2 separate regions of the Homo sapiens genome follow, and region 2 is linked to region 1. The links come from fine-mapping of genetic effects on gene expression. A gene starts in region 1. The other region holds a variant in brackets. All regions are shown on one strand. Distances are between the middles of the regions.

Region 1 (2,500 bases):
TATTTCATCTGGCAAGAGGGGAGTAGAGGAGAGTTCCTTTGTCAAGTCTTCTCTCTGTGGGTGACCCCGTTGGCTCAGAATGAACAACTTGGGCACATTACAGTAACCACCCAGGCCACAAAAATGCGTTGAAACCACTGAAAATGAAATAATCAGACCTACTTAAATGTTTTTACCATCTGGGCAAATAACACCCCAAGGGCCAAGACTTACCTAAGAAAGTGTCTGAAGTATGTTACCCAAGCCTGAGAGGCAACAGGTAGGTGGATTTTGTGCCAATTAGAAAGTGTTATGATTGGCAAACCACTGCAAAACTCTGAAATTGCAGTGAAATGGAAATGCTGGCTGTCATCCCCAAAGTACATTTCAAGGAATCACAAAACTTCAGAATTAGAAGCAATTATTTAGGATGAACGTTTTCACCCACATGAAAGTTGGAAGATGAGGTGGTAACACGAGAGCTTTTGCAGGCGTCCCTACTCTTAATCCTGCGCCCCTTCCACCTTGGTACCCTTCATTCTTCAGGACCTGATGGAGTGGTACAAAGCAGAGGTCACTTGACAAGCTCAGCCCAGCTCCTGGATGGGGCAAAGCTGACAAGGAATAGGCACAGGGAGCCTGGAGATCTCAGGGTCCAGGAAACAGCCTGCCCCATTAGAACTGCACAGCAGAGCACAGCACTGGGATCAGAGAGCAGGCTCATCCCCAGTCTTGTACAAAAAATAACATTTGATGATTCCCAAGGGGTAGGTAAAGCAAGTAGCATTTGGGGTTCCAGCAGCCTCTAGAACTGTTTCCCAAATGTTTGGAGCTTGACTTTGCAGTATACACTTTGCCCTGGACTGTTTTTCTCTTAATTTTTAGGCCCAAGTGTATTTTAAGGTAAATGGATCCCACATGCCTCTGGTGCATTTACACTGAACCCATCAGACCACATTTTGAAAGCGCAATTTGAGGTCCAAGAAGCCCTTGGAGGCTGCTTTTATGAGCCTGAGTTTCTTTTCTTAGAAGCAGGAAGCCACATTTTGACATGAACAAATAAAACACAAACCTTAAAGACTCGGATCTGGTTCCAAATGTGGCACCTCTGAAACCAGTGGGTCCTCAAATCATCAAGACAGAAAGCTTCCCAGTTTTCTTTTTGAGAAGTTCATGGAGACTTACCCCTGTGTTCTGTTGAGCCCAGAGGCAGTGGTTCGGAGGCGCTCGGTGCAAAGCTCACGTAAACCTTCAGCATTTCTGATTCCATCCTTCTTCCCAGCCCCTGAGTCTCCCTACACAGCAGGGACCCAGGCTCACTGCTGCCTTCTGGCCTTTGCTTTTCGGAGCCGAGCTGAGTGAGTCCCAAGGGAATCACCCTCTGTTTTATAAGCTTTGAAACCAGAGCATCCTGAGCCATTTGGTGCTGATGTGATTGCTAACACCACTTGACCCTGACTGAAGAACCACAACTAGGCATGGTTTAGATGTGCTTAGTTAGAGAAAAAAATAACCACAGCCAACAGCAAAGTGAGGTGTGTGGTGTGGGTGTGAGAAATGCTCTTGGGGTGAGGAGGGAGGACTTGCAGCTTCTTGGATGCTACAGGGCGTGGAACATGCTGTTTCCTTCCACTGAAGGCCTAAGATACTACTAAGTGGAACAGGAGAATTCCCTGGCCCCCTCACAGGATGTGCAACAGGGGTGTGGCTCTCTCTTCAGCCACCCCAAGCTAAAACCCCTTATGGGAAGGGGAGCACGCAGACAGGCAGGTGCAGGAACCAGGGTGAGCACTTTTGGGCCCCAGCCCCATGACAGCATCCCGGGGTCGGTGTCTGTGACTTCCAAAGCCCGAGTAGGCACTGAAACAGTGCAGTCTTTCAGCCTTGCCATCCGTGGACAGCTTAAGCGTTAACCAGCTTAGTGGACCCTCTCCCTTTTTGCCAGGGCAGAGGGCCAGTGTGACAGTTTCCTGTATCCCGAGCTCTTGTCCAGCATCCCGGAGGGATCAGGTCACACATGGATTTGCAGGATGAATGCAGGGGTTTTATTGAGTGGTGGAGGTGGCTCTAAGTAGGATGGATGGGGAGCTGGACAGGGGATGGAGTGGGAAGATGATCTTCCCCTGGAGTTTGGCCATCCAGTGGCCAGTTTTCAGATCGTCTCCAGTCGAATTCCTCCCAATGTTCCTTCTCTTCTCTCCTTCTTTGCCGTGCTTTTCTGCCATTCATGTCTGCTCATCTTCTTGTCTCCCCGTCTGCTTCTGGAGCCTGGAGCCTGGGGTTCAGGGTTTATATGGGTACAGGATAGGGGACATGGCAGGCCAAAAGGCAACTTTTTAGGGATGAAAACAGGAATGGCTGTCCTCATTTAGGGCCATGGGTACCCAGGCTTGAGGGTGGGGCCTTTGCCAGGGAACCACCCTCTTCTACCCAGTATTTCCCTGTCTCCTGTCCATATCACAAGGATCTGTGGAATGCCTACTAAGACTAGGGGTCCAGGACACAACTCCTGATAGGCACT
Region 2 (3,028 bases), 43 kb before region 1:
TATTTTTTAGTAGAGACGGGGTTTCACCGTGTTAGCCAGGATGGTCTCGATCTCCTGACCTCGTGATCCGCCTGCTTCAGCCTCCCAAAGTGCTGGGATTACAGGCATGAGCCACCGTGCCGAGCCTATACTCATTATCTTGACTGTGGTGATGGTTTCATAGGTACATACATACATGAAAACATGAAAACATCAAATTATCGATTTCAAGTATATGTAACTTACTACATATCAATTAGACCTCAATAAACCTGAAAAAATAATACATAAGTAGAATTACAGAACATTAACAGAAAAAGAGGCCTCAAAAACATTAGCAGAGCCGAAGGCTTAGAAATCATTTTATCAGGGGCCAGGCATGGTGGCTCATGCCTGTAGTCCCAGCACTTTGGGAGGCCAAGGCGGGTGGATCACCTAAGGTCGGGAGTTCGAGACCAGCCTGACCAACCTGAAGAAACCCCATCTCTACTAAAAATAAAAAATTAGTTGGGCATGGTGGCACATGCCTGTAATCCCAGCTACTCAGGAGGCTGAGGCAGGAGAACCACTTGAACCCGGGAGGCGGAGGTTGCAGTGAGCCGAGATCACGCCATTGCACTCCAGACTGGGCAACAAGAGCAAAATTCCATCTCAAAAAAAAAAAAAAAGAAAAAAGAAATCATTTTATCAAAGTCCTTCTAATTTTACCCAAAGAAAATAATGAGTCAAGCAACTAGATAATGTTAGGTTTAGAACCAAACCCTAAGCTTCACAACTTTTTCTAATACACCACATTGCTTTAGGTAGGGTATGGGTAGAAGGGCAGGACCAGTCAGGTTAACAGACTATGTGCTGGCTATCTACATAGCCACATGTTTGCTTTTTTAGCAACAAGGAGAAACAAATATAAATGGTTAAAAGTATACTGCCTATGTTCCAATCCTGTAACTTTCACTTATTAGCTATATGACCTTAAATCTGTTACTTAACCTTTTTAACCTTCAACTTCTTCATCAATTAAAAAACAACAACAACAACAACAACAAAACACTTCTTAGGGCTATTGTGATGATCAACCAAAGTAATGCACATAAAGTATAAAACTAGTGGTAGGGCTGTTTTAAGAATAAATGTTTGCTGTCATCAGCGGCATCATTATTATATTTATTATCATCAGATCCCACTTACAACAGATCTGATTCATGCTAGGCACTTTACCCAATGCCAGAAATGATATGGGGACATTTAGCTAGAACATTCTAGTATGAGGACAGATTGTAAAAAGACTTAAATACTTCCATATCAATAGATAAAAGCTATAAACACCCTAGTCACTTTAACTCCTCCCTAGGCACCCCTGAGGTAAATGTCTGAAAAAGCAGGGGCCTCCATGACTCTGCTCCAATATTACAGTCAGTGCTCATGCACGACAAGTTGTTAAAATACTTTTAATATCACTTCCTTTTGAGATTCCCAAAGGGCTTATTTGCCTCTGCTGGTCTGACATAGTCTAGGAACAGCCTGTCTATGGTATTCTCACAAATAAAGGACAGTACATCATCACGACTTTCCCCTGCAAACCTGCTTTTCCTCTGGTATTTCCTACTACAGTGCCACTATCCAGCTAATTAACTAAGCCAGAAATACAAGTGCCATTCTTGAGTCCTTCTGCTCCCAAAATCCACACATCCAATTCATCCATTCACTTACAAGCATTTATTGAGCATCTACTATGTACTAGGCAATTTGCTAGGCACTGAAGACAAAATAG[G/T]GAACAAGACAGACAAGCTTTTGGAGCGCTTACAACAGAGGAGGGAGATAAACAGAAAAATAAACAAACACATGATACATTCAATCCAATGAGGAAAATTAACCAGGATTCAAAAGGAATGAATGTTAACTTTGTATAATCAGAAAAGACTTCTCTGAGGAGGTAACAATCCAGCTGGAACATAAACACAAGAAAGGATCAGCTAGCAAAGTTCTTGATGGTGGAGCATTCCAGAAATTGCAAAAATCTTGAGTTGTACCCACTTTGCATTATTTTGCAAGGTACTAAGCAACAGAAAGAGTAGTTAGCAGGTGAACTGTGAAATAGGCAAGGGCTAGAATTCTGTTGAGTAGAGCCCCTTAATCCTTGTAATTTTCTTTTTCTTTTCTTTTTTTTTTTTTTTTTTTTTTTTTTGGAGATGGAGTCTCGCTCTGTCATCCAGGCTGGAGTGCAGTGGTGCGATCTTGGCTCACTGCAACCTCCGCCTCCGGATTCAAGCAATTCCCTGCCTCAGCCTCCTGAGTAGCTGGGATTACAGGCACCCGCTACCATGCCCGGCTAATTTTTGTATTTTTAGTAGAGACGGGGTTTCACCATCTTGGCCAGGTTGGTCTTGAACTCCTAACCTCGTGATCCACCCGCGTCGGCCTCCCAAAGTGCTGGGATTACAGGTGTGAGCCACCGCGCCTGGCCATCCTTGTAATTTTCACACCTTCCTTTCTATTCTCAATTTGACTATTTTGATTCAGATGTTATGATACCCCAAATTACAGAGAGCCAGCTAATAGGTTTGCCTTTCAAATTCTTTTTATCCCCCCACTGTGCTGCTAAGGTCCTTCGTCTGCTTTAAGTAATGCTATATCTCTCTATCACTTTCAGGATAAAATTTATTCTGCTAAATACAATATGTGACCCTTCTCTTGCTCATCTTCCACTACTTCCTTCTGCAAATACCAAGCTTCAAAATATAACTACCTGATGTGCTAGAAACACACCATTCTCTTTTTTACTTTTGCACCTTTGAACTACGTTAGGGTAGGAATGCTTCTTGCTGTCTCTAGTTTCTTTGAGAAAGATTTGTCTGTATTAGAAAACCTACTTGCCTGCAGATACATGCCATATCTAAATTAGCTTTATTAATAACAAAGCCCTATTTCAGTTCTCCATCTGTCTTATTCTTTTGTTTTTCTTTAATTTAGATTTCCTGGCTATCTTATTGATATTGATTTGTAGCTGAATTCCACTGTGATCAGAGAAATTGTATACAATCAATGATAT

Evidence for each region. PIP is the estimated chance that this variant, and not a neighbour inherited with it, causes the effect.
Region 2: its variant is fine-mapped to the expression of TC2N in whole blood (TOPMed, PIP above 0.99). The same link has a PIP of 0.9 or more in blood mononuclear cells.

The regions. Positions count from the first base shown.
Region 1 is chr14:91,866,098-91,868,597 of GRCh38, forward strand. TC2N (tandem C2 domains, nuclear) reads right to left here and starts at 1,439. Exons shown (of 12, transcript NM_001128596.3): 1 at 1,165-1,439. RefSeq lists an enhancer at 1,605-1,654.
Region 2 is chr14:91,822,889-91,825,916 of GRCh38, forward strand. All of the region lies in intron 1 of TC2N (tandem C2 domains, nuclear), which reads right to left. Among named protein-coding and RNA genes, the nearest start is that of TC2N, 43 kb to the right of the region's middle. The variant G/T (reference allele first, on the strand shown) is at 1,751.